6 separate regions of the Homo sapiens genome follow, and all the other regions are reported to be linked to region 5. Evidence: microRNA targets listed by miRTarBase, many of them from high-throughput screens and not tested one by one. Region 5 holds a microRNA gene; each other region holds the end of a gene's coding sequence. Distances are from middle to middle.

Region 1 (5,228 bases), not on the chromosome of region 5:
GCTGGGATTACAGGCATGCACCACCAGCTAAGTTTTGTATTTTTAGTAGAGATGGGGTTTCACTATATTGGCCAGGCTGGTCTCGAACTCCTGACCTCAGGTGATCCTCCCGCCTTGGCTTCCCAAAATGTCAGGATTACAGGTATGAGCCACCATGCCTGGCCAGTTTCTTTCTTCATAAGATGATTTTGAAGGCCCCTTTCGGCTCTGATAGTCTAGGATACTATGCACCTGGGTCAATTGGTTTTAAGCACTTTCAAGGCTTGCTTTCCTGTCATTTTCAGTCTAGAAAGTTTAACTTCCAGGGCTGGCCTAAAGGTAGAGCTTATTTTTAAAAGGGAGGGCTAGTTCTGATTCAACAGTAGACCTAAGTGTTTGGTTGGACTTGGATCTGCTTCAAATTTCCAGGAGACATGAAGCATAATGACGTGTAATCCTTAAGACCTAGACCCTTACTCTCCCAGAGAGGAGCTGGAAACAGACCGCTTACTGAGGGATGCATAAGGGAGTACCTGTCTGGGGTTTCACCAGTGTTGTGTGGAGGGGACTCGGCTTTCTAAATATCAAGCTTCTGGGAAATATTGAGTGGGGGCTGGTGGTGAGGTGCGGGGAGGCCACGGGAACTACAGACTACTAAAGGCAGGGATTATGTTTAGAAGCCACGGGGCTGAAGCCCTTGGGTGACAAGCTGTTGATGGTCCCAGGCCCGGGAAGGCTACTTTGGGATAGTGCATCCCCAGCTCAGTGCACACAGGCGGGAAACTGGTCCCCTGTCCCAAGCCCATAGCATCTCCTGTAGAGTTTTCTTTGGCTCCGAGAAGCAGAGGCCTCCCCTGAGCCCTGGCCCCCCTCTACCGCAAAGCAACTGGCTTCCATTACCCCTGACAGCTCCAGAGCAACAGCCCAGCCCCCGGCCCCGGCCTGGCTCAGTGCCGTTCCCTTTTATGGTGAAGCTGAGAGAAAGCATGGAGTGAGGGGGGAGAAAGCTCTGGCTTGGGCAGAGGCTTGGAGAGTTCCAGGGTGCCTCTCCCCTCGCCAGAGACCCTCGGCTACCCGCAGCCACCGCTCTTCGTTCTCTTCGGCGACCTAATCTGTCCTGAACCCAGGACCCCTCTTGCTTGTCCCAGCCCTTCCTCCTCTTCTCCATTCCTCCCCTTCTCCCTCCCCCACATCCGGGGGGTGATTTCCCACTTGGCCGAAGTCCCACGGTTTGGGTTTTGATTCCGGGAGGGTCCGCCCTATTTCCGACGCCCACCTCCGGGGGGTAGGGTGGAGGGAGGGAGCCCGGCTAAGACAGAACCTGGTCAGATCACAAAAGGCAGGATGGTTCTACTTGGTTGCATGTGGGTCACAAAGGATGGCGCCGGAGAAAGGAGCACCCGGCAGCACCAGCCCTGTCCCCATTCTACAACGCCTCCTACCCCTGTCCCCGCCGTCCGGGCCAGGGAGAGGGCACTGAGGGCAGGACCCAAAGGAAGCACCTGGTTGGGCCGGGCCGGGAAGCGAAGGGTGGGCAGCAGTACTGAGGGCCGGGGCCGGAAGGGGGTTGGAGTATCCCGCCGGCCCCGCCGCTGCACCCTCGCCCCAGCCCACTCCTCGGCTCCGGGGAGGCGGCCACCACGGCTTCGCTAGCCGCGTCCCGAGCCACGCCAGCTGCAGCCAGCTGTGCGGTGCCGGGCCCAGGCGCGCGTCCGCAGCCCCGCCCCACCCCCTACGGCTGGACCTCCCACCGCAGCCGCGCCCGAGGCCCCGCCCCAGCCGCGGCCGTAACGCGCCGCGCGGAGCCGACGAGACGGCGGGGCTAGAGAGGCCGTCCCGACCGCGCCCCCCGCCGGAAGCGGCTTGTTCGGGCCTGAGCTGGCGCTACGAAGTTCCGGTCCAGGTCTCTGACTTCGGGCTTGTTCGCTGGTGGCGTCGGAGCCGAGCCGGACTGGTCAGGTCAGAGGCACGCAGGGGCCGTCCCACGGGCCAGCCCCGCCGTGGCCGTGGCCGTGGCTGGCCCGTGGGGCGAGGACGGGTTCTTGCGAGGGCGAGGAGTGCGCCAGCCCGCAGCTCAGCCCCTCTCTTCTCCGCAGGATGATCACGGACGTGCAGCTCGCCATCTTCGCCAACATGCTGGGCGTGTCGCTCTTCTTGCTTGTCGTTCTCTATCACTACGTGGCCGTCAACAATCCCAAGAAGCAGGAATGAAAGTGGCGCTTTCTCCGCCCCAGGTAACGGCCCGGGGCTGTAGCGCCCAGTCCCCAGAGCTGAGTGGCGAGGCCGCGCCAGGGCTAGCAGGGTTCGAAACTTACAATCAGAAAGTGTCGGGCCAAGCATGATACAGTCCAGAACTGGGCCCCTTTGTCTGCACAGAGTAGAGAGAGAGCGCGCTGTCCTCTCCCCGTAACCTGTTCCCTGCTAGAATGGGAGTGGGTTGCCTAACCCTCACAGTCTCCAGTAGGTAGATGCCCAAGTTGGGAGTATAGTTGTAAGGAGGCACTGACACCGGTAGGAACGAAGGTACCGAGGGAACCATCCAAGTATGAGGATTTGGGCTCTTAAATAGCCCTCATTTTCCCCAGGTTGTTTAGGCCTTATTTGGGCAGATTTTTTTTGGTGAGGGGGGTGACAGATGTAGAATTCTGTTTCCATGTTCTGAGGCCAGGGGTTGGCTGCTGACCCAAACTATAGAGAAGGAAGGGGGGGCTTTGGAGCCAGCCTTAAGTGTGGGTCACAAGTATAAAGGGAACATGGATGGGCGTTACTTCCTGAAGGATTCCCCAGAGGAAAGCTGCAGCATTTTCCTTACCTCAGGTCTTTCCCCCTCTTTTCTAGGGTTCCAGGACATAGTCTGAGGCAAGATGGAGGGTATGAGGGGCCTTCACACTTCACTTCATCCCTTCTACCCATCACAACATACAAAGCAACTACACCTGGATTTTTCCAAACAACTTTTATTTCCTCAGAGTCTTCCTTAATCCTATGGAACAAGAAGCTGCCACTGAATAGGGCCCAGTATAGGGGCTTGCTTTTCTACTCCCTCCCCCCAATATAAAAATATAGACTTTTTTTTGTGGTCCCAAAATCTTGTGCTGCGGAGGGAGGGAAGGGGTGGCAGGTCCCTGTTTTGTTCTGTCTCAAGGTGATACTCTGTAATGCCTTGGACAGCGTGGCTGGCATTCCAAGGACTTAACGGCTGTCACATGGAATCAGCGGCCTGGAGGGGAACTAGCATATTTCCCACTGTTACCCCATCTTGGGGCTATATCCTGGGCTTGAACATAAAGGCATTATCAGACCCGGGGAGAAACAGTCAGTGGGGGAGATTTAGGGACAAAACAAACCTCAGGTTGGCCCAAGGGACCCCTGCTGTAACAATTCCAGGATGGGGAGTCAGATAGACTACAGGATATAGGAGAAAAGGCAGGGGCAGAGCGGGGCCGTGGGGGCCTGGCCTGAGGCAGCCTGCAACAGAAAAGAGAGAGGAATCAGGGCTGTGAAAACTCTCCTCCTCTTCTGTTCTGCTAACCAGGGGCTGGGAAGTGAAAGAAGTGGAGCGAGATGAAGATGGGTAAGGATGGGCAAGTTGGTTACTGCACAGTGGTTTGACGCTGGAACCAGCCAGCTCCTAGACCTTAGGCCCTGACTAAAAGTTGTTTTCTTTTGCTTTGGATTGAAGACTTGGCCATGGTGGGGGAAAAAAAAATCAGGGACTAGATTCTTAATGGAAGTACATTTAGTCTTTGTGCTCAAAAGGAGTAGGGAAGCAGAAAATTATTCTGAATGACAGAAATGGGAATGAGGGGACAGAAGTGAGGGGTGGTGTGAGGGACTGGACCCAAGTGCTCACCCTGGTGTAGCAGAGCAGGATCCCAGCTCCAGCTCACTGCTCTCCCTGGTCCGGGGGGTAGGGGATGTGGGGCCTGAAGAGCCTTTCATCCCTCTGCGAGTCGGCGGTGAGCCCCGGCCCAACCTGGGCCTAGCCTGTGTGGACAGGGTTTGCGCTAAGAGGCTGGATTCTTCCATGAGTTTTTTGCTTTTAGTTTGCTTCTAGAGTTTCCATGCATAAGAGTGTTGTAGTATAGGGATCAGTAGAGGTACTGGGACATTGAATTCTAGCTGAGAGGGTGAGGCAAGATAATAGCCAGAGAAGTCCTGGATTCAGTCCATGACTATGCACTCCAAGTCTATAACTAGGGGTGGCAAACGGATCCAGCATTTAACCGCCATGGCTACACCATGACTAAGGTCTGGGTGAGTAGAGAAACACTGTGTAGAAAGATAGTGGAGGGTTGGTAGACCTCTCTCAGAGCCCTCTATGCTTTAGCCCCTGCCAGAGCAGTGTACACTTCACCCATCCAGTCAGCCTCTGCCTATACTCAGCTTTACCTAGCATGGGGATCTGGACTGAATCGGAGTTGGTGGCAGGGCTGTTCCTAGCAGCAGCAACCAAATGTGTTACCTGGGGAATCCGGGACCCCTCCTGGCGGAAACTCTCCTCGGACAGGTCTGGGCAGAAAGAGAGGAGAAGCTAAGGGCAGGGGCAGGGAAAGCCAAAGCTAGCAGGCTAAGGTTGGGGTATATCTGGCAGGGACACAGGTTGAAAGCAAGCAAATGACCTGGCTGATGGGGATGGTGGAGGGCAGGAAGGGGACTGGACAGACAGGCACTCAGGCACCAGAGAAGCTCTCTGATGTGGCCAAGGGTAGATGCAGTAAAGCAGTGCTGAGCATTTTCCCTCCCACTACCCAGAGGAACAGTGCCTTGCTGGGTTCTGCCAGAGTAGCTATGCTGGAGACCCAAAAATATTACCTGCAATCGAGTCTTGATGCAGGGCATCCGAGCTCCAGTCCCTAGCAGACCTTTCCCGATTACCATGACAGCCTCTGGTTTGTCTCCAGAGGACAAGAGTGAGCAACTGCTCCCTAGGGAACAGAGGAAACTGATCAGGGTAGGGGTCACAGAGAAGAGGAGGTAACTTCCAAAGGATCAGGGTTTCTTAACCTTGGCACGTTGACAATTTGGGTTGGATAATTCTTTATCGTGGGGAGTAGTCTTGTGCATTGTAGGATGTTTCGCAGCATCCCTAGCCTCTAAACAATTTATGCTGTTTCCTCATCTCCCCCCTCCTCAGTGTAACAACCAAAAATGTCTCCAGATGTTGCCTGATGTCACCTGGCAGCAAAATCACCCCTGGTTGAGGCTCTAGTCTGGTGGTCCAAGGGGTGGAGCAGCAACTCCAGGCT
Region 2 (5,389 bases), not on the chromosome of region 5:
GTAGGAAGCCAAAAATTTGTCAAGTGCAGGTGTCTGCTGTTCCTGGGAGGTTTTAGAGGGGAGCAGACGCTTGACTGAAGCTTGAAGGCTAATTAGAAGTTTGCCAAGCCAGACGGAGGAAGGTGGAGAGGGCAGTCAGTGCAGCAGAGGGAAGAGTCCTGCATAGGGGTCACGGAGGCAGGAGACTGTGTGTGCAGGGGGTGGGTAAGTGGATGGGGTGGCAGGAGGTGGGGAGTGGCAAGGAGACCACAGAGATCAGATCATGAGCCGCCGTGTTTTTCACACACACCCCATCAAAGGGTTTCAAGCTGGGGAGTGACAGCTTCATATCTCTTCTCTGAGAAGGAGTGGGCTGGTTGAATCCCTCTCCAGGGCCCTCCCTGCTCTTGCATTCTGGAATGTTCTATTTGCGACTAGTGGAGGCGGCTGGGGGAGGGCTGGGAGCTGGGCTGGCTTCCTCCCTCCTCGACCACACGCAGCAGCCAAGCCTCAGCCCGGCTCACCAGCCACATCTTCTCTTCCCTTTGGTGTGTCTCCCTGGGGTGGGCAGGACCCACTGCGGGAACATGCTGCAGCCTTACCTGAAGGACAACAGTGGCAGCCACGGCTCCCCCACCAGCGGTATGCTCCACGGGGTCTTCTTCAGCTGCAACACGGAGTTCAACACGGGCCAGCCCCCGCAGGACTCCCCCTACGGCCGCTGGCGCTTCCAGATCCCAGCTCAGCGCCTCTTCAATCCCAGCACCAACCTCTACTTTGCGGACTTCTACTGCATGTACACGGCCTACCACTACGCCATCCTGGTGCTGGCGCCCAAAGGCTCCCTGGGGGACCGCTTCTGCCGCGACCGCCTGCCCCTCCTGGACATTGCTTGCAACAAGTTCCTGACCTGCAGCGTGGAGGATGGGGAGCTGGTCTTCCGCCACGCCCAGGACCTCATCCTGGAGATCATCTACACTGAGCCCGTCGACCTGTCCCTGGGCACCCTGGGGGAGATCAGTGGGCACCAGCTCATGAGTCTGTCTACTGCCGATGCCAAGAAGGACCCCAGCTGCAAGACCTGCAACATCAGCGTGGGCCGCTAGGGACTCCTGGGGAGCTGGGGGGCGAGGGAGAGATGAGCGGAAGGTGGAGGTGGGTAGCCCAGGTTCAGGGAGCTGGCTTTCTCTCTCCTGCCCCCCTGCTCCCTCCACTCTGCCCAGCTGCCCTCCCCTCGCCCCTTGGCATTGGAGGCAACAGACGGTGGTCCTCTTGGTAAGTGTGGCCCACACCCAGCCTGGTGGACATGGAAAGGCTTCTCAGCCTCTGTAGTTGGCAGCTGGGCTGGACTTCTGGAGAACTTCCCCTTTCCTCTGGTTTCCTTGTCCTACTGTTCTTTGCCTCGTCCAGGTCTCTATCTCCCAAAGACCTGCCCACCTCCTGGGCTCTCCCAGGGAAGCCCCTCTGGGCCAAAGCCCATGGGTAGCTTGGCTGCCTCCAGAAGAGATGCAGAGAGCTGTGGGGCGATCTTTCTTAGTCCCACTCACCCCACTCAGGGCCAACCACAGAATGCCCCCTCCCTGCTGAGCTGGGTCTCTGGGGCTTCCCACTCCAGGCCTGGATCCCTTCCTTCTATAAATAGTCTCCTGCACCACCGTGACTCCCTGGCTGCTCCTTGCCCCAAAGAACCCTCTTCCTGCATGGGAGAGCTGTCCCTCCTTCTCCACCTGCCCACCGGGACACTCCCCCTGCTCTCTAGAAAGGAACTCTCTTTCTTCTCTTGGCACTGGGGGCGTCAGGCTGTCGGATGTTCCTTCCTTCCATACCCCAGCATACCTTCTCCTTGCTTAGAGTGCAGGGGTCTGAGACAGCAGCCACTGGGGTTGAGGAGGGGGAGGAGACCCCTGAGACCCAGAGGTGCCCCTTCCTCAGCTGGGAGTGGGCCGCCTCATGCTCTGCTGGGGCCTGGCATGGAACGTGAGACCTGTAAGCTGTCCCGCGGGCCCCGGCACCCCGCCCAGCTGTGCACTTTGCTCACTCGCTCTGCCATGGTGCCATGACTGTACTGTGCCCATGCGTGACCTGGACTGTGGACCCTCTGCTGCTCCGCCTCTCCCCTCCCCACTGGCTCTGTCTGCTCTCCTGCCACCCTGCTGGCCGGGAGCCCCTCCCCGGGGAGTTCTTGGTGAAGTCCTTCCCGGGCCTCCTTGTGTTTTTGCCTCATTCCTACTGTCACACAGGTCACGAGGGTGGACTCCCTACAATCAACAAAGCAAACAGAGAGCCTGTGGGAGGGGCTGACAGCAGCAGCCGGCTGTTTGGGGGATGATGGAGGTGACATCAGGCAGAGGAGAGTGCAGCCTCACAGTGACTTTCTCAGAGGTGACAGAGATGATGGATGAGCAGCTGGATTTTCGTGATGAAGGACGGAAGCAGCAGCGGGCCGGCAAGGCCATACCTCGGTGAGGGACAGGTGGACAACGGTCACCTATCTGTAGCCAGGGGCAGTTGTGTGGCCAGCTGTCTCTCTGGGATGAGTCAGGAGGCCTGGAGGCTTGGGGAGAGGTGTGGAGAAGGAGAGAACATGGCCCAGGCCCTTTCCTTCCCCCTGTGCTGACAGCATTGCTGTGGGGGTGGCCCACTGCCCTCCCCTGGCCCTCATGTCCCCCCGGGGCTGGGGTCCGCCTGCCTGTGCTGTGCTTGCGACGTGCATCAATAAACCACCATGGCCTGAGGGCCCTGCTCGTCTCAGTCCATTTGAGCTGCTGTAACAAAATACCACACATTGGGTGGCTCAGAAACCGCAGATTCATTTCTCATAGATCAAGGTGCTGGCAGAAGCGGTGTCTGGTGAGGGCCTGCTTCACAGATGGCTCTTTTCACTGTGTCCTCACAGGGTGAAAGGGACTAGCAAGCTCTCTTGCCCCTCCTTTTTTTTTTTTGTAGACATGGGGAATTTCACCTTGTTGCCCAGGCTGGCCTCAAACTCCTGGCCTCAAGTGATCCTCCCACCTGCTTGGCCTCCCAAGGTGCTTGGGATTACAGGCATGAGCCACTGCTCTGGGCCATCTTGGGCCCCTTTCATAAAGGCACTAATCCCATTCATGTGGCCCCACCCTCATGACCTCATCGCCTTCCAAGGCCCTGCTTCCTAAAACTATCACCTTGGGGTTAGAATTTCCACCTAGAGCTGGGTGAGGTGGCTCACGCCTGTAATCCCAGCATTTTGGGAGGCTGAGGCAGGTGGATCAGTGGAGGTCAGGGGTTCAAGACCAGCCTGGCCAATATGGTGAAACCCTGTCTCTACTAAAAATACAAAATTAGCTGGGCGTGGTGGTGCATGCCTGTAATCCTAGCTACTGAGGAGCCTGAGGCAGGAGAATTGCTTGAACCTAGGAGGCGGAGGTTGCAGCAAGCCGAGATTGCGCCATTGCACTCCAGCCTGGGTTACAGAGTGAGACTCCATCTCAAAAAAAAAAAAAAAAAAAAAAAAAAAAAGTCAACCTAGGATTTAGGGGGGACACAAACATTCAGACCATAGCACCCCATCCCTTTGGGCCAGTGATGGTATGGGTGAGTTCTGCAAACCACAGAGGAGCTCAGGTGGGAATGCCCCCAGGACAGGCGACCTGAAATCAGCTCCAAGGGAGCACCTCGTCCATTGTGGGAGGCGGGGCTCAGGATGTAGAGCTGAGTCTCCAGCTTGGAAGGGACTTTGGAGTCTTTTGGTCCCACCCAGTGTTTCCCATATGGGGCCTCCCACATGGGGCGTCCTAGGAGAGGACTCACAGCATCTGGAGGCCCCGTTTGGAGCTTTTGAAGCCTTCCTACTACAGCAGCTTGCCATTGCTCCAGACCCAGATGCCACCAAATGTCCCTGTCCCAAGTGCCTGAGTGTCCCCGCTCCCCAACACAGCTCCCGTTTATAGATCCCAGTCACCTCTGCATCTATCATTTTATTATTATCATTATCATTATTATTTTTGAGATGGAGCCTCGCTCTGTCACCCAGGCTGGAGTGCAGTGGCACGATCTTGGCTCAGTGTAACTTCCACCTCCCAGGTTCAAGCAATTCTCCAGCCTCAGCCTCCCACGTAGCTGGGACTACAGGTACATGCCACCATGCCTGGATAATTTTTGTATTTTTAATAGAGATGAGCTTTCACCATGTTGGCCAGGCTGGTCTCGAACCCCTGACCTCAAGTGATCCACCCACCTCAGCCTCCCAAAGTGCTGGGATTACAGGCATGAGCGAGCCACTGTGCCTGGCCATTATTTTTATTTCTTGAGACAGGGTCTTCCTCTGTTGTCCAGACTGGAGTGCAGTGGCACGATCATGGTTCACTGCAGCCTCAACCTCTGGGGCCCAAGTGATCCTCCCACCTCAGCCTCCAGAGTAGTTGGGACCACAGGCGTACACCACCATGCCCAGCTAGGTTTTTTAACATTTTTTATTTTGTAGAGATGGAGTTTCCCTGTGTTGCCCAGGCTGGTCTCAAACTCCTGGGCTTAAGTGATCCTCCTGCCTCCCAAAGTGCTGGGATTACAGGCTTGAGTCACTGCACCTGGCCTGCATCTATTGTTATGGACTTATTGATATGGTCCTCTGCTGGAGTAGAAAAGCTCTAAAGAAGTCAGAGTCCTCACCAACACTGCCTGACTCAAGGCCATGTTCACGTGTGTCATCCAGAGCTCAGGGCACAGCCTTTTTGGGGTAGAAAGGAAAGCAGAAGGGCAGATGATGGCTCCTGAGGGCCTACTATGCACCAGGCACCTGGGTGCTGTCACACACATCAGCTTCTTTAGTCTTCACGATGGTCCTGGGGAGTATTATTCCCACTTAACAGAAGTAGAAACTGAGGCACAAAGCCTTGCCCATGTCTTACAGCCTGTAAGTGACAGTGCCCAGGCTTTGATTGAGATACCAGAATCTTCCCATTTTCTGCCCTGTGCCTGTCTCCTCTAGTGTATGTCAGGGGCTACCTGGGACAGTCCTGTTTCAGACACAGTGACACCCCCAGGGGTCCCCTCCACAACACCAGTTAAGCACGTCTGTGCCTAGTTCCAGAATATCACAGGGGTGGGCGGGGGGAGGCTATGGAGTCACGGAGGGCACAGAAGCTTATTTTAAAGGCATAGTGGAGCGGAGCCGGACCATGGTATCACGCGCCTGTAGTCCCAGCTACTTGGGAGGCTGACGTCGGAGGATCACTTGAGCCCAGGAGTTCAAGGCTACAGTAAGCTATGAGCGTGCCACTGCAGTCCAGCTTGGGTCACAGAGCGAGACCCCAACTTTTGAAAAACAAAGGGAGTAGTGGGCAGTACCTCAAATCCAGCATTCTGAGAATGGAGTGACTCGGGGCCAACCCTTCTGCCTCTGGGCGGGCCTGCACAGGATTCTCCACTCCCA
Region 3 (5,389 bases), not on the chromosome of region 5:
AGATATGATTACTAGCACAGACCATGTACTCGAACAAGATTTCTGGATTTGTTTCACTTTCTATTCCGTTAAGGAGAGACAGATTTAAACCAGATTTGAGATACTATTAAGGATTTAAAGATATGCATTAAATTCAATTCACTATTTGGTCTTTAAAACAAAATGTTGCCCTATTTTTGCAATAAGATATCTTTTATCTTTTGTGTAGGTTTACACAAGTTATATTACTAATTTTTATTTTTAAGCTACAGTTTTAAAGTGCATCTGTGCTGTTGCTTTGAAAAATTATTTTTAATATATCTTAATGACAATGCAAATTTGTAGATGGGATTTGTAAAACTGGGTTTTCAATCTGAACTTTGCAAACACTGTGAAACTGCTTGGAAAATAGTTTATGTGTTTATGTACATTTTTCGGCAAGACAAGTCTGTAGCTTTCATTAACTACTGAAAGGAATCTCTAACCTTCATCCTTGCAAAGCAAATAAGCACTGAGATAAAAGAAAACACATAACTTTACAAGAAATCTAATTGGATAAAACCTGAAATATCCTTGACCTAATTTTTCTCATTATAAAAGATGACTTTTTTCCTGATTATGTAACTAATACATGTTTACCATTTTAAAAAAGTTCACCTTGTTATGACAAATAATAATATGAATATATATCACAAAAAGCACAACATAATAGGTATTTTGGAATTTTTCAGTGTGCAGGTCCAACTTCATAGTACAATATACTTAATACTGTATAAACATATTTCATGATGGTAAATAAATCTGATATTATAGAAAGCTCTGCAAGAACTACTGGGACTTTGTAAAAATTTGCTGTACATTGAATTTAATACTCTGGTTATTCAGTAACATAATAAGTGTTTCAAAAAAGCATATATTTTGAAAATTGCATTTTGAAAGGTAAAAATGAAAAGTCTTACTTAAGGACAAAATAAAATGCATCTGAGATAATGTTAAAAGACTTACTTCAAAATAAGTCTTTGTTTCAAAATTATTTTTTATAAGATAAAAAAGGAATCTGATCTTCTCCATCAGAATAAAAATCAAAGGTCAAAAAAAGGTACATAGAGTACACTTTGAGTAACCAGAAAATACTAATGAATTGAACATCTTAGTGAGTCACATAATAAAATGTTTCGGTTAGTCATGGAGTGGCACCCTGGGCACTACTGACAGAGCAAATAATCCTGAACACACATCTACTACCCTTTGCCACAGTGCAAAATGAGATTATGGTGTCAGTACTTCTGATATTCACCTGATGAAACTGTCCTTACATTGATACTTGTTTACATTTAGAAAACAATGGAGCTTAAAAAAAAATAGCACTGAAGTTACAAATGTAAAACATACCCAATACAAAACCTGGTCACTGTGATCACTATAAATTCCAAACGCTTTTCCTCACTCTTATTCTTTTCTTGTAAAGAGGCTATTCCAATCCCCTGCAGTTTCTGTTATCAAAGGCAAGATATACAAGGACAGTAGGTCCTGTCTGTTCTCTTCAACATGGCACATACAGCACCTTGGACAGTGCCTGATACAGGACATTGCTCAATAAATACATCAGCAATGAAGAAAAAAGAAATAAAAGAAAAGCCAGTTTGGGGACTGGAATGAGAGGTAGGAGTGAGGAACAGAAAATAAAACAAATATAATTGAAATAATACTGGGAAAACATCACTCATGTTGTCAAATCAGAAAAAAATTTAAGCTGAGAACAATGCATTATTTTTCTTTAATACTTTACCAAAGGGTGAACAGCCATATCTCAGGCTGTATGCAACATTAAATTCCAAAATAATTTCTAGTAATTTAAAAATAGCATTGAAGAATAATTTTTTGAAGTACAATATTTTGTTTTTTGAGAGGAAGTCTCCCTCTTGTCCTCCAGGCTGGAGTGCAATGGCGCAATCTCAGCTCACTGCAACCTCCGCCTCCCGGGTTCAAGCGATTCTCCTGCCTCAGCCTCCCGAGTAGCTGGGATTACAGACATGCGCCACCATGCCCAGCTGATTTTTGTATTTTAGTAGAGATGGGTTTTCACCATGTTGGCCAGGCTGGTCTTGAACTCCTGACCTCAAGTGGTCTTCCTGCCTCAGCCTCCCAAAGTGCTGAGATTAACAGGCGTGACCCACCGTGCCTGGCCTGAAGTACAATTTTTTAACTTGCTACTATTATGTAAAAAAACACTAAGTTGGAAAAAATTTATATAATGAATTCATTTGGGTAAAAATTTATACATAAAAAATTTCTGCAAGAATGTAAACTATTAATCATTTTCCCTGGGAAGAACTGAGGGGCCTAATGCAGAAAGGGAGCTTTTATTAGTTACTTATATGCTTTTGTACTATTTGAATTTTTTGTTTTTACAATCAATATGTACATTTTATAATAAAACTCATTTAAAGGGAAAATGTCCAGTTTGTATTTGTGAAACACTCAGGTAGAAACTTAGAAATTGCAATCTCTTATAATATATTGATTGTTGATAATATTAAAGTTTGCGTTTTCTGTTTTATAGAGAGCCAGGGTCTTGCTATGTTGCTCAGGCATGAACTCCTGGGCTCAAGCAATCCTCCCGCCTTGGCATCCCAAAGTGCTAGGATTACAGGCATGTACCGCTATGTCTGGCCTGCACCACCATGCCTGGCCTGCACTTGCTATTTATTCTCTCTTTACTAAAATAAGAAAGTGGGAAATTAAATAGATTATGACAAAAGAAAGTGAAATAGACTAGGACAAAAGAAAAATGAAACAATATAGATCAGTCTCCTCCAATTCAGGAAAAAATACTATTACATTCAAGAAACGAAAATTTTCCAAAAGCTCAAATCATAAACAGCTATCTTCTAGTTTCTGTCATATCTTTACTATCATTGAACATGTATTCAAATTTAGGGTTTTAAGGTCTCCACAAAAGATAACTATTATATATTTAGTGCAACCAGGTACAAGACAGGCTCAAAAACAAACAAAACTGAATTGCTCATTCTAATAATAATCTAGAGAATCCTTCCACATAAATTTAAAAAATGATCTCAATAGGGACATCCTAAGTAAAGGAATATCAGAGAATGTTATTACAGGTGGGCTGGCCATAAACTTGTAAAATGTAATTTTTTAGCTCTTTTTTTTTTTTGAGATGGAGTCTAGCTCTGTCACCCAGGCTGAAGTGCAGTGGCGCGACCTCGGGTTCATTGTATCCTCCACCTCCCGCGTTCAAGCAATTCTCCTGCCTCAGCCTCTTGAGTAGCTGGGGCTACAACAGGCATGCGCCACTATGCCTGGCTAATTTTTTATATTTTTAGTAGAGACGGGGTTTCGCCATGTTGGCCAGGCTGGTCTTGAACTCCTGACCTCAAGTGATCTGCCCTCCTCGGCCTCCGAAAAGTGCTGGGATTACAGGCATGAGCCACCATGCCTGGCCACTGGTTATTTTTTACTGTTGACATACTTAATTACAAAATAATAACTTTAAAAGGTATGGTTCTTCAATAATGACACATATATCAGAAGGTAATAATACTAAAAAAAAGATCTGTGAAAAAACTTTCAAAATAAAAAAATTAAATATAATTTTAAAAAATGACGTAGAAAAACTGGATTTATCATGTGTAACATGTTTTGAAATATCTATACATTGTGGAATGGCTCAATATAGCTAATTAACGTGCATTACCTTATGTGCTTTTTTGGAAAAACCACTTAAAATTTACTCAGTGACTTTCAAAATACATTGTTGTTAATTACAGTCACCAAGCTGTACAACAGATCTCTTGAACTCAGTTGCCTTGTCTAACTGAAATTTTGTAAATTTTGACCAATATCTCCTCAATCCTCCACTGCCCCACCAGCCCTTGATAACCACCATTCTATTCTCTCCTTCTATGAGTTCAACTTAAGATTCCACAGTGAGATTATGCAGCATTTGTCTTTCTAAGCCTGGCTTATTTTACTTAACATGTCCTCCAGGTTGTCACAGATGAAAGGATTTCCTTGTTTTTAAGCATTAAATACTGTTCCATCAATACCATTTTTAATATATTTAAATTATATCCATTTTGGAAGTAGTAACAGCATGCTTTGATGGTGGCTCAGTAGAAGACATTGTATCAGAAATCCACAAATTAAGCAACTGTTTCTTATGAAGTGCATCATTTTCCTGGTTGGCCTGTTCATCCAGTGACTTTCTTATACAATTCTTTAATTCTTCGATTCCTTCTCCAGTAACTGCAGATATGGGGATGATATGTTGGAACTCTACAGTCCTCTCTGGAATCATGTTTTTTTCAAATAAATGCAGAAAATCTAAAAGAAAGAGCACAAACAAAGCTGATTTCCATTGTTTTCGAAAGTTAGTTAAAACCATGTTAATGGTTTGATTTGTGAAGCAGGGAACCAACACCAGCATTTTTCATGCCTTTTTTCACCTTTTCTAATAAGTTCTCAGAGCCTTTGGATTTTACCATTGATTATGGTAAGGTTCTTGGCACATAACATACTTGTTAGATAAATATATTTTAAACCAAACTAAGTATGAGTAGAAGATGAATCACAAAAATGACTTACTTAAGGAAGTAATAAATTTTGTGTGTGTGGGGGGGGTTAAATAAGGCAAGGCAGCATTGATTCTCTGAAAGATACTTTCTGTAAAAATAATAACATCATTTATGATTTGAGACATTCTACTTGGCCTCAGTACACTGGAGACCTTTAACTTCCCCAAAGTATAGGTTTATCATCAATGATGCTAGGATCCATACAAAAACTGAAGAGGGATTATAGAGAATTCAAGGGAAGATAATTTCAGATGAGTCCAATCTATCACCCCACAAGGGCTAACAATTGTTATATTACTTTTACCTCTTCCCTGTCACCATGGCATACTGATTGGCTGGGGAGATGGCATACTGATTAGATGGATTAACTGATATGAACTAGAAAGGCTGGACTGAAACAGATTGGTGGAGAAGACAACATGGAGCTTACTTTCTGAGATTCAAAAGCCCCGAAGAAAGTCCAGAGAGGATAACTCAGGATTATCACTAAAGGGCCTATATTTTATTTCACGATAGGTCAGAACAGCTACAGACTCCTGAGTCACCCTCACTTTCGGTATTTCCTCTGAAAATTCCCTTCTCTGCAAGATCAACTAGCAAAAAGAACTAATGACCATACAAAGCAAATGTCATTAGGAATGAAGGCTATTTAGTATCAGAGAATATTTATATCCCATGAGTAATTTATTAACTCAAGGACAGCTCCAACATGTAGATTACACAGGGGAAAGATTTTTGAGAGGAAAGGACCTTCTGGTGCTGTTTGACAGTCTTAGTACCTATAATCTATTTTCCAACAATTGTTACCA
Region 4 (4,000 bases), not on the chromosome of region 5:
CAGGCGTGAGCCACCGCGCCCGGCCAGCATGGGAACTCTTGAAATAACTGCATGTATTTCTTTTTTTATCCAAAAAACTATTTGAAAGCTTGCTTTGCTAGGTTGTTTTTTGCATAAGTGTGAGAGTAGCTAGCTATTTCTAGTATTAAATGGTAATGGGAAATAAAATTACAGCTGTTTCTGAGTTGGATCTCCATGTGGCTTCATTATTTTTTCGCTGTGAATTTCCAGAAGAGTAGATACAACTGTAATAAAATGTAAATGAGAAAATATATTCAAAAACCAAATATAAAATGACTTGAATTATTTTTCTGGCTTACCTATACTTCATTTATCTTTATTAAGGTTAGTAAGGGAAATGTGTGTGGTTTATATTGTAGATACATGCACACACAGCAGGATAAATTTTCATTTTAATGCTCATTAAGAATTTAATTGTACTTAATATATTTTGCAGTTATAAAGGAAATAGAAAAATAAAGTCTATCCCATGTGAAATGACTCTCACTGGTATTGTTTTGCCCATAAGAACTTCTGTCTTGTTTCAGTGAAGCAGGGAACAATCACTAATACAACATTTGTATCTCATTTCAGGATGATGATGATGATCCTTTTATGAACACTAGTTCTTTAAGAAGAAATAGAAGATAATATATTTAATGGCACTGAGAAACATGCAAGATACAGGAAAAATGAAAATGTTACAAGCTAAGAGTTTACAGTTTAAGATTTTAAGTATTGTTTCCTGAGCATAACTCCATAAGTAAGAAATTTCTAGTTCACAGACATACAATAGCATTGATTCACCTTGTTTTTTTAACCTGGTTGTTGTAGTAAGAGCTTTGTTTCAATATCACTCTTGAGTAAAGATTAAAATAAAGCTACCATTTTACATTTCTATTTCATAATGAAAAACTATGTCAGTATTTTAATATGGTTACATTTAGCCAAAGTTGAGGGAAAGAGCTTATAAAATTTAACTTCTTCATAATTTTAGTAATTTCCTAGAGGTTCTGGGTTTTCTGAAAGTAAAACAATTTATGCGAACCTATGTCTAAATTCACTGTTTGTTACTATGTATGTTTTTTTCCAATGCTTCTTATAAGACTAAATGATTAGAAGTACCTAATAGTTTGAACAGATATGTTTTTATTTAAAAGAGTAGAATAACCTTTCAGAATTACTGAGTTTTTTATTCCAGTTGTAGCAAAGATTTCAAAAGATTGTGTTCCCATTAAGTGGTAGTAATTTCCTTTATTATTCTGTATCCTTAATGGTGTTCTCTCTCTCTCTCTCTCTCTCTCTCTCTCCCTCTCCCCCCCGTTCCCCACTCTTCCTTTCTCCTTTGCTTTTTCTTCTCTTTCATACATATATGCGTGCCTAGTTCTAGGAGGAAACGGGTTAAAAATTGTTTTAAACTACATCTTGAAAATATTGAAGAATTTGTTTTAGGTAGAGTGGTCAGTTGAACCTTACAGTAAAGTATAGAAATATATTTAATGTGGAATGTCAATGCCAGGATTTCTCATTAACAATATTTTATCTCAACTTTGGTTCCTGTGATACATTTCTGAATGGGCAATTCCAGAAATCTTAGTAGCCCATGTTAAGCTTCTATTTTTTACTTGTTTTCGGGGAGAAATAAGAATTAGACATCTTCAGATTTAAGTTAAATAATCCCATTCTTTATAATCCTCTGTAAAAAGATCCCTGAGATTATTCCTTCTTCTAGTTTTATGCGACAGCTTTACTTTAAAATTCAAGTTATACATCTTGGGAGTACAATGGCCCGACATTTCTTCATAGGTAGAAACAAATACTTGACTCAGTGATACTCATGACCATTAGAATAGTCATACCTGGAATGTGTCAAATTATAAGAGACAGACACTTGGTTAGTGGCTGCCTCATATAGCACTTTTGAAGAGGCCTAAGTCAAAACTTGCAATATAACATTCTATTGACTTTCTTAAAAATATTTTTTCTGTACCTAACTTGAGCATAAGGGTTATTTGAGCAAGTAACATTAACTCAGTGGAAGGCATTGTCCTGTGAAATATTCTTAGGCAGATCTGCCCACATCTTTATTGAACTTGAAATCTAATATTTCTAGTATTTGAACAAAGCAGAAGGTTAAGTCAGGGAAGAGCAGTGCTGTCCATGATGTAATGGAAGCTACCAGGGGAGGCAGTGTCTGGATGATGCTGTGCTACCTACCCCTGCACAAGCCATGCTGGCTCAGTCTGAGCTGTGGGCCACATCAGCTAGTGGCTCTTCTCATGCATCAGTTAGGTGGGTCTGGGTGAGAGTTATAGTGAGGGAATGGTCACTAAAGTATCCTGACAAGTTCCTAGGAAAAAAGGAATAAAGTTTTTTTCCTTAAAAAAAAAAAAATTGCTCTTGGCTGTGAAAAGAGGTACTAAATGCGATTCAGTTCACCGCTAAGGAAAGTGATGACATAGCAGTTACAGAGGGTGATAAATCTCTCCAGCTAATTCAGGTCATTTTGTGAATACTATGTATCAAGCCCTGAAAATATGGTAAATAAAACGTGACAGGGAAACCTTTTTTTGATTGAATATTGTTACATAGTTAAATGTGCTATATATCCTTAATATTTTATATTGATCCTGCAAAATCTGTTGGTTTTAGGGGAGTTTTGTTTTTTGTTTCTAACAATTTTCAGACCTGTTGGTATAGGAATGTAGAAGTCTTTCAGATGATTTGAAAGCAGCTGCATTTGCTCTTGGAGGCTTTGGGAGAGCAGGAATGAAAACATTCAGAGGAAGACATCTGTAGGGAATTCTTCTGTTACTTACCAAAGAATAAGTGTCTTTCTGGTGTTTTATTTCCTATCATAAAAATACAACAGTGCATTTACAAGGTTAAAGATTCCTCGAAGTTCTAGGAAATTCTTGAAAATATAAGTGGTGCTTAGAAAATTCAAGCATTTAGGAATGTGACCTTTAATTCAGGTATGTAAAAGACTTTTTTCCCAAACTTTTAAAAGTAGGAAATACAATAAATACAGAAAAGTCATATGGTTGAATAAATAATTATAAATTGAGCACTGATGGAATCCCTCTACAGGTCAAGAAATAGCGCAGTGTCCTGGATGCCCATTATATTGTTTTCTCCTTTCTGGGTAACAAGCCCTAACTTCTGTAATTTAAAAGCTCCTACTTTTGCCACAAGGTGGTGCTTCTGCCATTAGACGCAGTTAGGAGGATGCAACTGCAAATCTAAAATTACGAAGTTAGTGTAGTTGCAATAAACTTAGAACATATGCATTAATACTAAACCTATGCAGTAATACCATAATTAGCCTTCTAATCATGTAATTTGCTTTACTTAGGTATTTCATTTGGTTCAGCCTGTTATGGAATTTACCAGCTTGATAAATTTGCCTATAAAGTTTTATAAAGAAAAGGAATATTTTGTTTTCATAAAGAGGAAAATCCATTCTTAGAAAAAAACTGAGTAAAAAAGTATCTCAATGGGCTGGGTGCAGTGGCTCATGCCTTTAATCCCAGCACTTTGGGAGGCCGAGGAGGGGGTTCACCTGAGGTCAGGAGTTTGAGACCAGCCTGGCCAACATGGTGAAACCTCGTCTCTACTAAAAATACAAAAGATTAGCTGGGCATGGTGGTGTGTGCCTGTAATCTTAGCTACTCAGGAGGCTGAGGCAGGAGAATCGCTTGAACCCAGGAGGCAGAGGTTGCAGTGAGCCGAGATTGTGCCATTGCACTGCAGCCTGGGCAACAAGAGTGAAACTCAATCTCAAAAAAAAAAAAAGTATCTAAATGTAAAATATCTTTTTTGGAAATATAGAATTTAAAAGCGACTTTCCCCCAAAGAAATCTGATGTCCTTTTTGTATCTGTCATAAATTTAATTCATAGTATTTTGGGTTTTTTTTGTTTTTTTTTTTTGAGACGGAGTCTCGCACTCTTGCCCAGGCTGGAGGGCAGGGGCACCATTTCGGCTCACTGCAAGCTCCA
Region 5 (4,064 bases):
GCTGGGGTCCCACAGGCGAGGGGAGGCTGGGCTGGGCGGCATCTGAGGGGCTGGGGCCACGGCCTCCCCACCCACCCTGCTCTTGTTGCACAGCCCAAATGTGGCCAGCAGCCGTGACGGGATGGACAACGAGACAGGCACGGAGTCCATGGTCAGTCACCGGCGGGAGCGTGCCCGACGCCGGAACCGCGAGGAGGGTACAGTGGTCATGTCTGCCCAGCTGTGGACCCCCAGCCTCCCTGGGACCCCCATGAGCCATGTTCCTACTACAGCAGTTCCTGTCCCCCAGCCAGTGGCGGTGCTTGGGTGGAGGCACAGGCCCAGCGAGCCTACAGTTGAGCTGCCAGCTCCCAGACCCACAGGCATGCAGCACTGCCCAGGCAGCCCCAAACCCATGACCTCTGGGAGACCCTGCAGTCAGTTCCCAACCTGCTGCCCCCACAGCCGCCCGGACCAATGGGCACCCAAGGGGAGACCGACGGCGGGATGTGGGGCTGCCCCCAGACAGCGCGTCCACCGCCCTCAGCAGCGAGCTTGAGTCCAGCAGCTTTGTGGACTCGGACGAGGATGGCAGCACGAGCAGGTGTGTGGGAGTGTCTGTGGGCGTGTATGCCTGTGTGCCCACTTGCAAATGTCTGTACATGATGTGCATGTGTCTGCATGAGGTGTTTTCACATTGCACGTGTGTGCGTGTGTGTGCATGTGTGTGCCTGCAAATGTCTGTGTACATGATGCACGTGTGCTTGTGCACGTGTTCCACATGAGGTGTTTTCACTGTGCACGTGTGTGCGCGCCTGTGTGTGTGCCCGCGTGCAAACGTGTACATGATGCACGTGTCTGCTTGTGCATGTGTGTCTGTGTGAGGCGTTTTCACATTGCGGATGTGTCTGTGCATGTACCTGTGTGCAAACGTTTATGTACATGATGCGCATGTCTGTGTGTGCATGTATGTGTGTGTGAGGTGCGTTTTCACAGTGTGCACGTGAGCGTTTTCACAATGCACGCGTGTGCGCAGGTGTGTGCATGTGTGCGTGTGCGTGTGTGCAGGTGTGCGTGTGCAGATGTGCGTGTGTGCAGGTGTGCTTGTACAGGTGTATGTGAAGGTGTGCGTGCAGGTGTGCATGTGCAGGCGTGCGTGTGCAGGTGTGTGCAGGTGTGCCTGTGTGCAGGGGTGCGTGTGTGCAGGTGTGCATGTGTGTGCAGGGGTGCGTGTGTGCAGGGGTGCATTGTGCAGGGGTGCGTGTGCAGGTGAGTATGCAGGTGTGCATGTGTGCCTGTGCAGGTGTGTAGTGTGCAGGGGTGCGTGTGTGCAGGTGTGCATGCGTGTGCAGGTGTGCGTGTGTTCATGCGTGCGTGTGCAGGGGTGTGCATGTGTGCCTGTGCGCAGGGGTGCATGTGTGCAGGGTTGCGTGTGTGCAGGTGTGTGTGCAGGTGTGTGCATGTGTGCCTTGTGCAGGGGTGCGTGTGTGCAGGTGTGCATGTGTGTGCAGGTGTGCATGTGTGCAGGTGTGTCAGTAGTGGATCTGGCTACATGTGTCTGTGCCCAGTTTGCCTGTCTCTGGGATTTTCGTGTGTGCTCATATGCATATCACGTGTGCAGGGCCTGGGGCGTGGACGTCAGGCACTGAGCCTGCTTTGGAACAAGCCTGGCCTAGACCCCCGATTCCCACTCAGTATTGGGGGAGCGGGTTCCCACCCCCCTACCCATGTCTCCAGCTCCTCTGAGCTCTGACAGTCTGTTCCCAGGCTCAGCAGCTCCACGGAGCAGAGCACCTCATCCAGACTCATCCGGAAGCACAAACGCCGGCGGAGGAAGCAGCGCCTTCGGCAGGCGGACCGGGTAGGCAGCCGGGTGGAGCAGGGCGGGGCTGGGGAGGCGAAGTCAGTGTCGGGCAGCCCCGTGCCTTTTACACACGCCCCCTCTCCTCCATAGGCCTCCTCCTTCAGCAGCATAACCGACTCCACCATGTCCCTCAACATCGTCACTGTCACGCTCAACATGGGTGAGGCCTCGGGGCGAGGGTTGGGGGCAGGGGCAGGGGCTTGGCCGCGGCTCATGGCTCTTCCTGCAGAAAGACATCACTTTCTGGGCATCAGCATCGTGGGGCAGAGCAACGACCGTGGAGACGGCGGCATCTACATTGGCTCCATCATGAAGGGCGGGGCTGTGGCCGCTGACGGCCGCATCGAGCCCGGCGACATGTTGCTGCAGGTGTGTCTGTGGGGGCTGCGGGGTGACATGTAGCTGCGGGTGGGTCCGTGGGGACTTTGGGGTGACGTGCGGCTGCGGGTGGGTCTGTAGGGGCTGCTGGGGGACATGCGGCTGCGGGTGGGTCTGCGGGGGCTGCTGGGGGACATGCGGCTGTGGGTGGGTCTGCGGGGGCGGTGGACTGAGCTGCACATCCTGCCTGCACCACCCTAATCCCCACCCCTGCAGGTGAATGACGTGAACTTTGAGAACATGAGCAATGACGATGCCGTGCGGGTGCTGCGGGAGATCGTTTCCCAGACGGGGTGAGGGCTGGGGGCGCTGGAGCGGGAGGGGCCAGGCAGGGAGGTGGGACCATGGGGGCCTTGCTGTGTGACCACCGTTCCTGCAGGCCCATCAGCCTCACTGTGGCCAAGTGCTGGGACCCAACGCCCCGAAGCTACTTCACCGTCCCACGGGGTGAGTGGCCCTCGGGGCACACGGGGCGGGATGGGGAGGGGGCGCCTACCTAGCCTGAAGGCCTCTCTCCTCTGTGCCCTGCACCCTGCCCTCCCACCCTGTCCATCTGTCCGCCTGTCATCGCCACGTGGCGGCCACCCAGCTGACCCGGTGCGGCCCATCGACCCCGCCGCCTGGCTGTCCCACACGGCGGCACTGACAGGAGCCCTGCCCCGCTACGGTACGAGTCCCTGCTCCAGCGCCGTCACGCGCACCAGCTCCTCCTCACTAACCAGCTCCGTGCCTGGTGCTCCACGTAAGTGGCAGCTCCTGAGGGCCCCAGCAGAAACCGAGGCTTGGAGGGGGCGTCTCTGCCAGCCTCCAGCATGGCCGCCTGTGGCCGTCATGGGGCTGTGACACGTGTGTGTTGCCTGTCCCCAACTCCCTGCACAGACGTGTGCACAGGCACCCGTGCCCACCTTGTGCAGCCCATCCTGCTCATGGTCTGTGTGTTGGGAACAGGGGATGTACGTAGGGCCCCTATGCGGGGAGCACCCACGGCGTCAGAGGCAGGGGCCAGGTCTCCATTCTGCTTCCTGCCATTAACACGACTAACAGCCTGCGCTCTCGGGTGGGGCATGCGGGGAGGGGAAGGGGCCTGCCCTGTTCTCATTACTTCCTGGTCTGCAGGGTGGGGTGTCAGCCCAGTTTGTGCCTAGGATCCTGATGAAAAGTGTCTGTAGAAGTGGGAGACTAAATGTCCAACCCCCCTGCTCACGCCCCAGCCTCACGGGGGTGCATCCTGCAGTGGGCCGGGGCCCTGCTGTCACGCACCGTCCAGCTTGCGCCCTGGCGCAGGCTCTGCCCAGAGGCTCCCCTGGGGGTGCAGGGCCCTGAGTCCCCCGCCTTCAGATGCTGGGGCTGAAGCGGGGCTGTCTGTGCTTTGCAGAGCTGGAAGAGGCGCCGCTGACGGTGAAGAGTGACATGAGCGCCGTCGTCCGGGTCATGCAGCTGCCAGACTCGGGACTGGAGATCCGCGACCGCATGTGGCTCAAGATCACCATCGCCAATGCCGTCATCGGTGAGTGGCCGTCCCCGCGGGCGGATAGTGCCAGGGGCAGGGCTGCTTGCCTCGAGGCTGCGGGCTGACCGCTGGTGCCGGCCAGGGGCGGACGTGGTGGACTGGCTGTACACACACGTGGAGGGCTTCAAGGAGCGGCGGGAGGCCCGGAAGTACGCCAGCAGCTTGCTGAAGCACGGCTTCCTGCGGCACACGGTCAACAAGATCACCTTCTCCGAGCAGTGCTACTACGTCTTCGGGGATCTCTGCAGCAGTGAGTGGGGGCTTCGGGCTTCAGGGCGGGGGGGAGGGGAACGCCGGAGGCCCCTCCGCGGCCCTCACCTACCCTCCCCCGCC
Region 6 (5,389 bases), 220 Mb from region 5:
TTGTATTTTTAGGAGAGACAGGGTTTCACCATATTGGTCAGGCTGGTCTTGAACTCCTGACCTCAAGTGATCCACCCACCTCAGCCTCCCAAAGTGCTGGGATTACAGGCGTGAGACACCACGCCCGGCTTAGCCAGGCGTTACTGTGCAAACCTGTAGTCTCAGCTACTTGGGGGGGCTGAGGCAGGAGAATTGCTTAAGCCCAGGAGGTCAAGGCTGCAGTGAGCTATAAGCACACCACTGCACTCCAGCCTGGGTGACAGAGCGAGACCCTGTCTCAAAAACAAAACAAAACAAAAAAATCACTCTGGAGATGACGTGATAAATGGATGAGAGAGAGATAGATGGGTTACAGTGTAGGCAGAAAGATTAGTCAAGACACTGCAGGGATCTAGGGAAGAAATAACGGGGTATAAGGGTATAAACTAATGTAATTAATGTAGAGTCAAGAGTAATGGAGAGAGGATTTAGACTCCTACATATCTCACTTACATAAATTGGGTTTTCGTATAGGAACCTGAAGAAAATACCTTCAAAGTTATTTTCGGCCGGGTGTGGTGGCTCACACCTGTAATCCCAGCACTTTGGGAGGCTGAGGAAGGTGGATCACCTGAGGTCAGGAGTTCAAGACCAGCCTGGCCAACATGGTGAAACCCCTGTCTCTACTAAAGATACAAAAAATTAGCCAGGTGTGGTGGTGTGCCCCTGCTACTCGGGAGGCTGAAGCAGGAGAACCACTTGAACCCGGGAGGCAGAGGTTGTAGTGAGCTGAAATCATGCCATTGCACTCCAGCCTGGGTGACAGAGTGAGACTCCATCTCAAAAAAAAAAAAAAAAAAAAAAAAGTTATTATCTTAGGGCTGGGCGCAGTGGCTCACACCTATAATCCCAACACTTTGGGAGGCCAAGGCAGGCGGATCACCTGAGGTCAGGAGTTCGAGACCAGCCTGGCCAACATGGTGAAACCCCATCTTTACTAAAAATACAAAAATTACCTGGGCGTGGTGGCACATGCCTGTAATCCCAGCTACTCAGGAGGCTGAGGCAGGAGAATCGCTTGAACCCGTGAGGCGGAGGCTGCAGTGAGCCAAGATTGCGCCCCTGCACTCCAGCCTGGCGACAGAGCGAGACTCCGTCTCAAGAAATATATAAATAAATAAAAATAAAGTTATTCTCTTGTTACACTTAGATTTTTTAAAAATTAGGTTTAGTCCACTATTTACAGATAGAGAACTCCATTCGTAGAGGGAAGCAGGTGGATTCAGGTGATGATTTTCTAACTTGGCCAATTATCAAGATCACCTCATGGGTTTGTAAAATAATTTCTGGAGGGGTCGGGGCAAGAGTGAAGAACTGTTTAGACATAATCATTCAGACATCTCTGTAAGGCATCTAGGTAGGTTTTGGGGTATATAGATCTAGAGTTTGAGAGTTCTAAGCTAAAGATTTTGGATTAATGAGCAAAAGCGCCACAAAAGTCACACAGGTGGATTAGATCCTCTGGTGAGAAAGGAGAGAAAGCATAGTCCAGGTGCAGTGGCTCACACCTATAATCCCAGCACATTGGGAGACAGAGGCAGGAGGATTGCTTGAGGCTAGGAGTTCAAGACCAGCCTGGGCTGTATAGCAAGACCCCATCTCTACCAAAAAAAGAAAAAAAAGAAAGGAGAGAGACTAGAACAGAATCTTGGTAAACAGTGACATTTAAGGGAAGGAAGACAAAGAGAAAGCAATAAAGGAGACTGAGTAGGAGTGGCTAGGTGAAAAAAGAAAGCCAGGACAATGAGAAGAGACTTACAGGAGGGAGGGCTCAAAGGTGTCAAGACCACAGAGACCTCTTCCTGCTAGATTATGACACTTCTATAAAATAATACTATATTACCTTATCTAGTGAGTCCTAGAGTTAAATGATTATCAGTCCCTGAATTTCTTAAAATATACAGAAGCAGGCTGAGCGTGGTGGCTCACATTTGTAATCCCAGGACTTTGGGAGGCCAAGGTGGGCAGATTATGAGGTCAGAAGATCGAGACCATCCTGGCTAACACAGCGAAACCCCGTCTCTACTAAAAATACAAAAAATTAGCCAGGGGTGGTGGCATGTGCCTGTAGTCCCAGCTACTCAGGAGGCTGAGGCAGGAGAATCGCTTGAGCCCGGGAGGTGGAGGTTGCAGTGAGCCGAGATTGCACCACTGCACTCTGGCCTGGGTGACAGAGAGTGACTCTGTCTCAAAATAAATAAATAAATAAGTAAATAAACACACACACACACACACACACACACACACACACACAAGCAAAATCGTTGGGATAAACCCTGTGAATTTTTATTTTTATTGTTTGAGACAGAGTCTCGCTTTGTTGCCCAGGCTGGAGTGCAGTGGCACGATCTCAGCTCACTGCAACCTCTGCCTCCCAGGTTCAAGTGATCCTCCTGCCTCAGCCCCCTGGTAGCTGGGATTACAGGCACACACCACCATGCCCGGCTAATTTTCGTATTTTTAGGAGAGACAGGGTTTCGCCATGTTGGCCAGGCTGGTCTCGAACTCCTGACCTCAGGCGATCCACCCGCCTCGGCCTCCCAAAGTGCTGTGATTACAGGCATGAGCCACTGCGCCTGGCCTGTGAATCTGCATTTTAAAAGAATCTTCCTAGGTGATTCTGATATGCAGTTGAGTTTGGGAACTGTTAATTTAAACCACTTGTTGATTTGAAAACAGATAATTTTAATTAAAAGCAATGGACAGAGACCTAAAAATAAAAATCTAGGTATATTAGCAGAATAATTTTAATAGTTTATGTTATAATCTCTCATTGGAAGGAATAGAAGCAAGTACTTAGCTTTCCACAATTAAGCCTTATAATGATGCCACAAGAATAAACTAATCCCCAAAGTCGAGAATGTATAATTTTCAAACACTTTTTTAAAAAGCTGGTGAATAACAAAGAGCTAGGATTAAATAATTTATTTAAAAAAAACTTTTCTCATAAATCTGTTTCATAAGCATATATAATAACATCATATATATTCTTAATTGGAGTAGAAACGTTTTTAAAATTACTGTGAAAAACAAGAGTGAGATTCCAGAAAAAATTGTGCCCTAAAGAAATCTGGTTTAGGCCAGGTGCGGTGGCTCACACCTGTAATCCCAGCACTTTGGGAGTCCGAGGCAGACAGATCACGATGTCAGGAGATCAAGACCATCCTGGCTAACACGGTGAAACACCTTCTCTACTAAAAATACAAAAAATTAGCCAGGCGTGGTGGCGGTGCCTGCAGTCCCAGCTACTCGGGAGGCTGAGGCAGGAGAATGGCATGAACCCGGGAGGCGGAGCTTGCAGTGAGCCGAGATCACGCCACTACATTCTAGCCTAGGCTACAGAGCGAGACTCCGTCTCAGGAAAAAAAAAGAGAAATCTGGTTTAGAAGATAGGAATGTTCATTGAACATTGACCTGAACTGTCAATTGGAACTAAAGCTTTTTCTCATTTCTCCACCTAAATACAGGAAAACAAATATAACATATTGAGTTTATAAGTTCTCCAGACGTCAAAATTGGTCTGGTTGATTAATCAAGTTAAATTATTTAATTCTATTTTCTATTCCTAAATATAATAACTAAATATAAATCACTGCTCAACAATGAATAAAGGTGGAACTCTAATTCTACCCAATTAATCTTAAAATGTATTATTTTGAGAACCAAGTCTTTCTCCTAGCTAAGTAAATGAAACTTTAAGTACTTTTTGGGTTTTTGTTTTTTTTTTTTCTGAGACAGGGCTTAACTCCTGTCACTCAGGCTGGAGTGCAGTGGCACGATCTCAGCTCACTGCAACCTCTGCCTTCCGGGCTCAAGAGATTCTTCTGCTTCAGCCTCTCAAGTAGCTGGGATGACAGGCGCATGACAGGATGCCCAGTTAATTTGTATTTTTGTAGAGATGGGGTCTCACGATATTGCCCAGGCTGGTCTCAAACTCCTGAGCTCAAGTGATCCACCTGCCTCGGCCTCCCAAAGTGCTGGGATTACAGGCATGAGCCACCGCGCCCGGCCAAATGAAACTTTCCTTTAAGGAACAAGTGCATTTTTAATAGATTCTGGAACTCGGCTTGCATAGTAGTCATAATTCCTCAGTGTGGCCAGGACTCCTGCAGAGTTCATATGCTTCACATCCTTGTGGTACTGAAGAACATTCCCATGGATATCGGTTAACTTGCCTATAGAAAAACATCAATCAATCAATCAAGTTAGTGGCTAATTGGATTGTGGTTTTTCTAGTTATTTTTAAGTGCCTTTTGCTTCCTTATCCAATAGTAGCCAATAAATTCTGGATGAAATAATGAGTGTCCATAAAGGTTAAGTTTTAATTCACTTGAAATTTAAGACTACAGAACAATTTTAACTAACTAAAGGATATAAAATTATTTTTTCTCTGATTAATATTAATTTTATTTAGCATTTTCTTTTCTTTTTTTTTTTTTTTTTTTTTTTTGAGATGGAGTCTTGCCCAGGCTGGAGTGCAATGGCACAATCTCAGTTACTACAACCTCGGTTCACTACAAGCCCAGGAGTTCAAGGGTGCAGTGAGCCATGATTGCACCACTGCATTCCAGCCTAGACAATAGCGACCCTGTGTCAAAAAAAAAAAAAGGCTATAAATAAGGGCTAAATTAAATTAACTGTATGCAGATCAAAGTTCAAAAAAAGAGACGATAACTAAAGTAAAACTTGCTGAAAATCTGCTCTCTCATCCATCTATCATATGAGGGGTTTGGACTGGATAATCTCTAAGCTGCCTTCTAGCTTTTATATCGTAACAGTCTAAGTAAAATAATATTACTGAGATATTATGTCTTAGCATGATATAATTGTAGAAAAACTATGAATTTCCTCAAATAAAACAGACTAACCTCCCACAGCATGTAAAATAACTTCTGGAGCACAAGTATCCCACTTCTTACAACCAGGACTTGCAAATACATAAGCAGAGGCTTTGCCTTCAATCAGCTGAATAATCTGTAAGGGTAAAAATAAGAATTATCCTTTGATAATAGAAAGAATAATTGAAAGTCATGAAAAGATTGAGGTACAGATAAGAAAAACTGCTTGTTTCTATCAAGGACATTTAATCAGTTCCTCTGTTAAATTTAGTTAAAGCTTTTAGCAGGTTTAAATTATACCAGTATTATGAAGAAATACATAGAATAAATGCATAATAATATAGTGATATGAAGGAAAAATAATGGTCAAAAAAGCTACAAAGAGGATATCTGAACTGTCTCCATATTCCAAGTTACATAAAGTAACATGTTCCTTTTATTCACGTTGTTTTTCTTTTTTAGTGTAAAAGCAATATACATTTACAGCAGAATTAATTCAAGTTTTTTCAACA

What was found. The annotated mature microRNA hsa-miR-6808-5p reads CAGGCAGGGAGGUGGGACCAUG and lies in region 5 at 2,547-2,568, shown strand. An mRNA with a match to its seed (bases 2 to 7 or 8) in the 3' UTR can be bound and repressed. Matches are read on the target gene's strand: a 7mer-m8 pairs with bases 2 to 8, a 7mer-A1 pairs with bases 2 to 7 and ends in A, and an 8mer does both.
Region 1: miRTarBase lists AGBL5 as a target of hsa-miR-6808-5p. The part of its 3' UTR that is shown has no 7-base or 8-base seed match.
Region 2: miRTarBase lists PHYHIP as a target of hsa-miR-6808-5p. Seed matches in the 3' UTR shown: 7mer-m8 at 2,664-2,670.
Region 3: the mRNA of GTPBP10 is a reported target of hsa-miR-6808-5p. The part of its 3' UTR that is shown has no 7-base or 8-base seed match.
Region 4: the mRNA of MRE11 is a reported target of hsa-miR-6808-5p. The part of its 3' UTR that is shown has no 7-base or 8-base seed match.
Region 6: miRTarBase lists BPNT1 as a target of hsa-miR-6808-5p. Seed matches in the 3' UTR shown: 7mer-m8 at 3,300-3,306.

The regions. Positions count from the first base shown.
Region 1 is chr2:27,068,311-27,073,538 of GRCh38, reverse strand. It overlaps AGBL5 (AGBL carboxypeptidase 5), which reads right to left. Exons shown (of 15, transcript NM_021831.6): 13 at 4,795-4,907; 14 at 3,833-3,966; 15 at 2,921-3,447. The coding sequence ends at 3,276. OST4 (oligosaccharyltransferase complex subunit 4, non-catalytic) reads left to right here and starts at 1,885. Exons shown (of 3, transcript NM_001134693.2): 1 at 1,885-1,938; 2 at 2,076-2,213; 3 at 2,818-3,067. The coding sequence starts at 2,077. The coding sequence ends at 2,190. RefSeq lists enhancers at 677-736, 2,167-2,406 and a silencer at 1,417-2,116.
Region 2 is chr8:22,217,049-22,222,437 of GRCh38, reverse strand. PHYHIP (phytanoyl-CoA 2-hydroxylase interacting protein) reads left to right here. Exons shown (of 5, transcript NM_014759.5): 5 at 551-2,735. The coding sequence ends at 1,085. Among named protein-coding and RNA genes, the nearest start is that of PHYHIP, 12 kb to the left of the region's middle. RefSeq lists an enhancer at 1,724-2,424.
Region 3 is chr7:90,383,832-90,389,220 of GRCh38, reverse strand. It overlaps GTPBP10 (GTP binding protein 10), which reads right to left. Exons shown (of 10, transcript NM_033107.4): 10 at 1-4,329. The coding sequence ends at 4,067. Among named protein-coding and RNA genes, the nearest start is that of CLDN12, 17 kb to the left of the region's middle.
Region 4 is chr11:94,416,776-94,420,775 of GRCh38, reverse strand. It overlaps MRE11 (MRE11 double strand break repair nuclease), which reads left to right. Exons shown (of 20, transcript NM_005591.4): 20 at 595-4,000. The coding sequence ends at 651. Among named protein-coding and RNA genes, the nearest start is that of GPR83, 17 kb to the right of the region's middle.
Region 5 is chr1:1,338,186-1,342,249 of GRCh38, reverse strand. MIR6808 (microRNA 6808) reads left to right here and starts at 2,542; the gene lies at 2,542-2,600. DVL1 (dishevelled segment polarity protein 1) reads left to right here. Exons shown (of 15, transcript NM_001330311.2): 4 at 94-197; 5 at 445-583; 6 at 1,747-1,840; 7 at 1,934-2,003; 8 at 2,073-2,212; 9 at 2,438-2,514; 10 at 2,601-2,668; 11 at 2,811-2,963; 12 at 3,597-3,728; 13 at 3,814-3,981.
Region 6 is chr1:220,054,779-220,060,167 of GRCh38, forward strand. It overlaps BPNT1 (3'(2'), 5'-bisphosphate nucleotidase 1), which reads right to left. Exons shown (of 9, transcript NM_006085.6): 8 at 4,908-5,013; 9 at 2,704-4,214. The coding sequence ends at 4,066. Among named protein-coding and RNA genes, the nearest start is that of EPRS1, 11 kb to the left of the region's middle. RefSeq lists an enhancer at 5,014-5,183.